2 separate regions of the Homo sapiens genome follow, and region 2 is linked to region 1. Evidence: fine-mapped expression QTL. A gene starts in region 1. The other region holds a variant in brackets. All regions are shown on one strand. Distances are from middle to middle. Region 1 holds the start of CNIH3 (cornichon family AMPA receptor auxiliary protein 3). Region 2 has its middle 64 kb from the start of WDR26.

Region 1 (4,385 bases):
TGGAGTGCAGTGGTATGAACACAGCTCACTGCACCCTTGACCTCCTGGGCTCAAGCAACACTCTCACCTTAGCCCTGCAAGAAGCTGGGACTACAGGTGCATGCCACCACACCCGGCTAATTTTTGTATTTTTTGTAGAGATGGGGTTTCTGCCATGTTGTCCAGGCTGGTCTCAAATACCTAAGCTCAGGTGATCTGCCCACCTCGACCTCCCCAAGTACTGGGATTACAGGCATAAACCACCATGCCTGGCCAGGTATTTCTTTATAGCAATGCAAGAACGGCCTAATACAAAGTCCCACATTTTCATTTTGCACTTGGCCCTCCAAAGTATGTAGCCGGTCCTGACCCAGAGGCAATAAAATGTAGATCGGTTCATTGCTCTGGTCATCAGCCTCTGGATTTGCTCTAATTTCTCCACTTCTCACTGAAAGGCATCTAGTTTCTAAACTGGAGGGAGATATGAGGCCAGGCACTGTGGTGCACACCTATAATCCCAGCGCTTTGGGAGGCCAAGGCTGGAAGACTGCTTGAGGCCAGGAGTTTGGGACCAGCCTGGCCATATATTGAGACCTATGTCTGCAAACAAAACAAAACAAAAATTATCTGGGTGTGGTGGTGCATGCCTGTAGTCCTAGCAAGGAGTTTGAGGCTACAGTGAGCTATGATAGCACCACTGCACTCCAGCCTGGGCAACACAGCAAGACTGTCTTCAAAAAAATAAAATAAAATAAATTGAAGGGCCTGGAGCGGTGGCTCACGCCTGTAATCCCAGCACTTTGGGAGGCCGAGGTGGGTAGATCACGAGGTCAAGAGATCGAGACCATCTTGGCCAACATGGTGAAACCCCGTCTTTACTAAAAATACAAAGATTAGCTGGGCGTGGTGGTGCGTGCCTGTAGTCCCAGCTACTCGGGAGGCTAAGGCAGGAGAATCGCTTGAACCAGGGAGGTGGAGGTTGCAGAGATCACGCCACTGCACTCCAGCCTGGCGACAAAGTGAGACTCCGTCAAATAAATAAATAAATAAATAAATAAATAAATAAATAAATAAGTAAAAGATGTGGCCAAATAGCTGCAGGAATGTTGGGGCATAGTAGAAAGAGCCCAGGATTAGGAGTCCGCAGACAGGATTCCAGTTCTGTCACTAGAAAGCTGTATCTCTATCTTGCTGGAATTCATCCCTTCCAGCTCTCAAGGCATTGGAATCACATCTGTGAACAGGAAAACTAGCACACCAGAGTCAGAATCAAGCAATAGTTATTTATCTAGTTCCCACCCTGTGCAAGGTACCAGGTGCTCTAAGATTCACTCCAATCCATGAAGTGCGTCTACTCTTTCACCGAGATTTGCCAGTCGTCTTTCAGGGTATTTTTCCTTGCTTTCTGGATTTGATGACTTGTCTGAAACTGAAGTTCTCTCTGGAATGACTGGACCTCTTTCACTGCAGCGTCAGGAATCTCTTGCAAAGCAAGCATGGTGAACTTCCAAGATGCTGGGCCACTGGGGGAAAGGGTGCAATTAATAATCCCTACCACTTATTGAACGTATACCAAGTGCTAGGTTTTTTACTTATGTTCCCTTTTAATCCTTTGAAATGGCTTGACTCTACTCTTATTTATGTTTTTCTGATAAGGAAACTAAGGATTAAAGAGGTTAGGTAACTTGCAGCTAGAAAACGGTCTACCTTCAAAAGCATCCTCTTGACAATTCCACTAGGACCAACACCAATACCACCGAGCCCTCGTTGCTGCCTCTTCAGCGCAGAATAGCCCACCAAGTCCACGTTTCCCTAGTCCCAAGGTCGGATGGCTGGGGAGGGTAGAGGATGCAACGGAAGGACGTTAATGGAGAATTTTGCAGGGTCTGGGAGCAGAGCAGTAAACGCAGCCCTAAGCACTGAGTATGCTACAGTTTGGTAAAATCCATCCAAGCAGCTTTGGGATCCAAGGCTTGCACTGTATCCCCAACCAACACTAGGCAACGCCCCAAGTCCCCACACTTCCCACTCCGATAGGCGAAACTGCAAGAACCGGGAGGGGCGGCTGCGGCGTTTAGGCGCGAGGCACACACCATACCCTTCCGCAGCTTCCCACCTCCTCCAGACGCACGTGTTTAAAGAGTCCCTGCTCCAACCGGTCCCGCCCCACCTCCGCTCGGCCTCCAGCCCTGCTTGTACTGCTGGCTTCAAGTTTCCTCCGAGAGGCGGGCGTGCACAGCTGCAGTGGCGGCGGCAGCGGCCACCAAGCGCCCGGCGGCGCTTCGCCACCCACCTTTCCTCAGCCCCCGGCGCTGCAGTCTCCGCCCGCCGGGGAGGGCGCGCTCAGCGGAACAGGAGTCGAGGGTGGGGCGCCGAGAGGAGGGAATCCCGGGTCGCACCGCTACAGTTCTCGCAGTGGCAAAGGCGGCGGCGGCGGCGGCGGCAGCGGCAGCAGCAGGTGGAGCGAGCTACAGCGTTTGGCCTGAAACCCACTGCTGCAGCCACCCGGGCTGGAGTTGGCCCGTTGGGTGGAGCCAGTGCTCGCCCCGGTCCGACCCCCGGTTTCCGGGACACTTGGGTTGCGGAGGCCGGCTGGCCGGAGTCACGGTTGGGGACGGGCGCGCCTCGGAGCGCACGGCTGCGCTGGAAGCCGCGTCTGGGGCGCAGGACCAACGGGACCTACCTCCTCCCGGCTACCTAAAGACTCCTTCTCTCGGGAAAGAGCGCTGCCCGGCTCTGGGATTTGGGAGGAGCTCGGAGGCCGCTCGGGCACCTCGCTGGACACTATCCGTTTGCGCCCCGGTGGCGCGGGAGGGTCCGGAGCGGAGCGCTCGTCTCTCCTCAGCGGTTTAGTGGAGAAAAGCAGAGAGCTCTTCCTGGGGCGAATGGGACCTCCTCCCTCGGTCCTCCGTGGAGTCGTCGCATCGCTTGTCGTGTTGGTCTCGAGGGGCTCACAGCTTGGCACTAATTTGCAGGTGTTCGCTGCTGATTTGGTTTCTTCTTCGATTTGCGGACGGTTCCCTCCAGCGACTCTCGACACACGTTTTCCTGTCTTCGCCGGAGGGCCGGGTCTGGGGTCGCCGGAGCCTGCGGGAATCCAGCGCTTATTCGCTGACCCTCGAGTCGCTTCGCTAGCTGTGCGCCCTCCTGGGCACTAGCCTGGAGAGGAGCGTGCAGACGCGGCTCCTTGGAGGGAGTGCGGTCCTCTAGGGAGGCATCGGGCTCCTAGGGGCTTCTTGGCGTGTGTGGTGGGATTGGGGTCCGCCGGCCATGGCCTTCACTTTCGCTGCGTTCTGCTACATGCTGTCTCTGGTGCTGTGCGCTGCGCTCATCTTCTTCGCCATCTGGCACGTGAGTAACACGCTTTGGTCTCTCTTCTTTCGCCCCAATTTCGCTAAATTTCCCCGATTTCACCCCACTTTTTCCACCTTGCGGGCGTGGGCGAACCGGAAGGTTGGACCTTCTGCCGCTCCACTGTCCCGGGGCAGGAGGCAGTTCGCTGCATCCCGCCGGGCGCGCCTTCGGTGCCCTGGCTGGAGGCGAGGGGCCGCTGGTGCCCAGGTAGGACACCCTCTGCAGGGCCCGACTGGGCGTCCCGGGTCCCGGGCGCCGGGGAGTGGCGGCTACAACCACAACTAACCCCTTCCTCTCCCGCCCCGTCCTCTCCTGCCGGCGGGAGGCGAAGGAGAAGCGCCGCCGTCGGTCCCGGCAATTAGTCAAGTAGCTATAATAACTAAACATTTAAAATGTCAGCATCTGTGGTGGGTTGCATTTAGATATAATTGGAGACAAAGTGGAAACACGACGGGAGCGCCTTGTAAGAGGTAGGGAGAAGCCGAGCCCACGGAGAGGAAGGAGACCAGGCGATGGGGGTCGAAGTGGAAGGCGGTGGGGGAAAGGCGAGAAGGAGAAGAGCAAGGAGGCGAGGGAGACTGGGAAGGGCAGGCATCATTAAGGCCATGGAGGAAAGTCACGAAGAGAGACCGTGGAGAGCGACGACGGTGTCCTCCATCTGCCCTCTTGGCGTCTGAAGTCCGACTCCTGAAGACCCCCTGCAGGTGGCGAACCTCCGCTAGGCCCCCAGCGTCCCCAGCCCACACAAGCTTCCTGTCACCCTTCCCGGGGCTACGCCAGGTGGAGGGCAGCCGTGGATCCCAGTTCTTTAGGTGTGGGTGGGAATAGAGGAGCGCAAGCTTCTGAATAGGGGAAGAGAAGTACTGAGAGAGCGCGCAGGAGTGCGTACGCCGGTCCTCTCAAAGACTGTGCAACATTTAGCGAGTGCATGCAACTCTCAAGGCTTCCTTCTCTGAGGTTGTTTAAGCCCCCTATCCTCACCCTCAGAGGGCTGGTGGGAAGAATGGCCAAGGCCAAATGTTTAGAAGGAGCACCCCAGTGCATAATTTCCC
Region 2 (4,385 bases), 120 kb before region 1:
TCATAGCAGCGTTATTCACAATAGCTGAAAGGGGGAAGCAACTCAAGTGTTCTTTGATGGATGAATGGATAAACAAAATGTGGTATATCCATACAATGGAATATTATGCAGCCATAAAAAGGAATGAAGTACTATTATATGCTACAACATGGATGACTCTTGAAAACATGCAGTGAAAGAAGCCAGTCACAAAAAAACTACATTTTATGATTCCATTAATATGAAATGTTCAAATAGGCAAATCTATAGAGACAGAAAGTAGAGGAGTGGTTGTCAGGGAGAGAGGCATAGGGAGGAATTGGGAGTGACTGCTAATAGGTACAAGATTTCTTCCTGGGGTGATGAAAATGTTCTAGAATTAGCTAGTGGTGATGTTTGCACAACATAGTGAATATACTAAAAACCACTGAACTGTATACTTTAACAAATGATAGATTTTATGTTTACTTTAAAAAATGATAGATTTTATGTTATGTGAATGATATGTTGATTTTTAAAGTCTAGGAATTAATCAATTATACTGTGATGGAATATGATATTTTAAGTCAGAAATTTACTTGTGGCATCATCTTCACTGTTCATCTGTAGAATCAGGAGAAGTGATGTTTCCTAGGTTGCTGTGAAGATTAGATAAGATAATGCATATGACAGACTTAGCTGCAAGAATATGGGTTGGGAACCCTTTGTTGTTATAGATGCATTTCTAAAGCAACTTTTTTTATGTGTTGCTGTTTGTTGGAGCCCTCCAGGAGGATCTTGGCACTGAGAGAAATCCCTAAACTAGAGTCATGGCTGAAGAGTGCTGAACACTTCCTGCACTGCTGGCTGTATGGTGGTCAGATGCTCCTGACTATGACCCTGCAGTGAAGCCCGGATCTGGGCAAAACTGAGAAGTAGTTGACACTTGCATCTCTTTCCTGACTGTCTTTTCTGGCCTGGTAGTCTTTTGGGTTATAATTCAGCATCTCTTCCATCTGCATGTCTCAAGTGATTAGTATTTTCCAAAGTGAGCTCATCACATTAATCATATTAGGGTATGAGCAGCCCTTTTAAGCTGTATTTGTATCTTACAGGAAGACCAGAAAAGCTCAGAAGGAGGAAGAATCTTCAGGCACTGTGCAAAGGGAGGGCAGGGAGAGGGGGAAGTTATTCTGCAGCAGCAGTGCCTTCCTGGGCATCCTGAAACCACCCTGATTCAGGGCCCATCTGGCCTCCTCATCTCAAGGCCAGTCTTGCTTGGCCTGTGCTCACTGCTGCCACTGCAATGCCATCTGGAAGAGAAAATCAGGACAATGGCTTCAGTTTCTTGCTCTCTTAGGATTAGGCTAACATGGAGGCCCCAGCAGCCCCAGCAAAAGCAGCAGTGATGGTGGTGGCGGTAGGGGTGTCATTAGCAACACTAATGAATCACTGCTGGGCCCGGTTCTCTTCTCTGACTCAGCTTGAAACTTCTTTCAGTTAACAGGAAGCCAGTAACCAGTAAAGTCAAAAGCTTATATGCAACTCTCTGGATTGGAAACCACTGGGGTGTTTTTTAAGCTTCTATTTCTAAAATAAGAAGGGAAACCAATGGACAGAAGCTTCCCTGTCTTCTTTGATGCAGATAAACTATGTTGGTAGAGGGTGATTGTGAGCTGGGGCCCTTGTTTCTTATGAAACTAAAAAATTCTACATGAGTTTACAAAAACAGGAAGCTGGCAGTGAAAGCTATTGGAATTATGTAAATGAAACAGTCAGTTTGGAATGCAGGTGGGAGTGTGCCTGTGGGAAAGAATGGAGAATGCATCAGAACACGGGCAGCCAGGTTACCATGCGCTGCTTCAGCACAGGGGAAGATGCGGGGGGCAAGGAACCTTCACTGCCCTGGCGTCATCAGCCCAGTGCTGCAACAGTGCAGCAGAAAGGGCAGCGGGGAAAGGCGACAGGAAGAGGAATCAAGACACTTACATTGCTCTAGGAGAGATTCGCATTTTTTTGTGGATCTGAGGATGGGAGCTCTGGGAGCTCTGGAGCCTCTTCCTGTCCGCAGGCACTGCAAAGCTTTAGCACACCAGTAGCTCCCCAGAGGGCTGGGAACCCATGCCAGGACTGGCACCCGCTCCGGGAAGGGGTGCTGGGAGTGCCATGATTTAGATCAGTGATTCACAAACTTTTGGTAGTGAAGACACTCCGTTAAAGCTTATTGTTTTGGGGTTGTATCCTACTCCCCGCCTTTTAAAAATGTTAGTTAAAAATTTAAATTAAAATGGACTTTGTTTTAAAATTAAAAATTTCCTGTTGTTTGAAGCTTCTATGACAACTGGGTAGCCTTCTGAGGTATTGTAATACAGTATTAGGATTTGGACTCTCTGCTGTATACACTAAGCTCTTAAGGGTGAAGGGCAGGCCATTGGTTCTGATAAGAAGAGAGGTTGCCATAGGTATCTCTGC[T/C]TTCTTACTCTTCCCCACTCCAGGCCATGTGGACATCTGGAGATATTTGATAAAATGTCCTTTACCAGCCGAGACTCATGACTAATCAATCGTTGTTTTTGTTGGTTTGCTTCTAATCCCTCTCCCTTCCAGTCTATCTTTCATCCTGCCATCAATTTCCTAAAACAGATTTGATGTGCCACCTCCCTCCTCAACAGTTTTCAATGGGATTTCCTACTGCCTGCATAAAGTCTAATGCCTTAGAATGGGGCAAGGAAAGCCTTTCATGATTTAACCCTCTAATACCTTTCTAGTTTCAATTTTTTATAACTCTCTATTTCGGGTCATTTTTTGAACATCAAGAAACTGAAAAGCATAGCTCAACTGCCTTATACAATACACGCCGTTATTTGCTTCTGGGACAAAAGAAGTCTAGAGTCAGCTGACTGGGCACTGTGGCTCACACCTGTAATCCCAGCACTTTGGGAGGCTGAGGCAGGAGGATCGCTTGAGGCCAGGAGTTCAAGACCAGCCTGGGCAACATAGCGACATCCTATCTCTACCAAAAAAAAAAAAAGAAAAAAGAAAAGAAAAAGAAATCTAGTGTCAGAGTGGGGCTTTGGGTAAGGCTCAACAATTCCCCAAGGATCTAATTCCTTTCTTTCTTTTTTCTTTTTTCTTTTTGAGACAGGATCTTACTGTGTCTCCTAGGCTGAAGTGTAGTGGCACAATCATGGCTCACTGTAGCCTTGACCTCCTGGGCTCAAGTGATCCTCCCACCTCAGCCTCCTTAGTAGCTGGGACTACAGGCCTGCACCATCAAGCCTGACTAATTAAAACAATTTTTTTTTTTTATAGAGATAGTGTCTCCTTATGTTGCTCAGACTGGTCTCTTGAACTCCTGGTCTCAAGTCATCCTCCCACCTCAGCCTCCCAAAGTGCTGTGATTACAAACTGAGCCACTGTGCCTGGCCACAATTTCTTCCTAATTCTCATGGTCCCAAAATGGTTGCCAGCAGCCTTCATCTCATGTCTCTAAAGAAAGAATGACTTGGCTGGTGCAACAGTTCATGCCTGTAATCCCAGCACTTTGGGAGGCCGAGGCAGGCAGATAGCTTGAACTCAGGAGTTGGAAACCAGCCTGGCCAACATGACGAAACTCTATCTCTACCAAAAATACAAAAACTTAGTCAGGCTTGGTGGCATGCATCTGTGGTCCCAGCTGCTTGGGAGGCTGAGGAGGGAGGATGGCTTGAACTCAGGGGGCGGAGGTTGCAGTGAGGCGAGATTGTGCCACTGCACTCCAACCTGCTGGGCGACAGAGTGAGACAAAAAAGCAAAGAAAAAAAAAAAAGAATGACTTTTCCCCAGCATTCATGACTGATCTTTAATCTGAGTAGACTTGTTTCTGACGTACATCTGCCCCTGCACCAACCCCAGTCGCCAGTGGGCTGGGATGTGCTGAGTGGCTACCTGCTGCACGATTTCCCTTGACCTCAAGACTCCCCACAATGCAGTGGATGCCTAAGTGGACAATGAGGCTGCTAGGATGGAAGAAGGGGGGCTGGAACCCGAGGAAGCAGCCGGCATCTGTGCATTCCACACACCCTGCACCATCACATCTCCATGCCTCCCCTTCTGCCACTTCCTGGAACCTACCATCTGCTTCCACTGATCAGAGCCCTGCTTATGCTTCAAAGCCTTGCTCGTGGGCCACCTCTGCTGCTGTGCCTCTTCTGTTCTGGAAACAGTAATCTTTTTTTTCATCTCTCTACTCTCTAAAGCATATCATGTTTCTATCTCATGTGCATTTACTAATTCTGCTTTGTTTTATGTCCACTTGTTTGTATATTTGACTCCTATATTGAACAGAAAGACACTTGAGGTAGGCGGAGTCATACTTTGTTCATTGTAGGGGTTTAAGAGTGTTGAATAAATGGTCATGGGCAATAATACTATCATTATTGAGAGCTTAC

Evidence for each region. PIP is the estimated chance that this variant, and not a neighbour inherited with it, causes the effect.
Region 2: its variant is fine-mapped to the expression of CNIH3 in whole blood (TOPMed, PIP above 0.99).

Annotation. Positions count from the first base shown.
Region 1 is chr1:224,613,926-224,618,310 of GRCh38, forward strand. It overlaps CNIH3 (cornichon family AMPA receptor auxiliary protein 3), which reads left to right and starts at 2,392. Exons shown (of 6, transcript NM_152495.2): 1 at 2,392-3,330. The coding sequence starts at 3,250. It overlaps CNIH3-AS2 (CNIH3 antisense RNA 2), which reads right to left and starts at 2,302. Exons shown (of 4, transcript NR_183287.1): 1 at 2,273-2,302; 2 at 1,687-1,811; 3 at 1,279-1,502.
Region 2 is chr1:224,496,929-224,501,313 of GRCh38, forward strand. It overlaps a transcript of CNIH3 not described here. Among named protein-coding and RNA genes, the nearest start is that of WDR26, 64 kb to the left of the region's middle. RefSeq lists enhancers at 877-1,406, 1,132-1,331, 1,407-1,938, 3,314-3,814, 3,815-4,315. The variant T/C (reference allele first, on the strand shown) is at 2,431.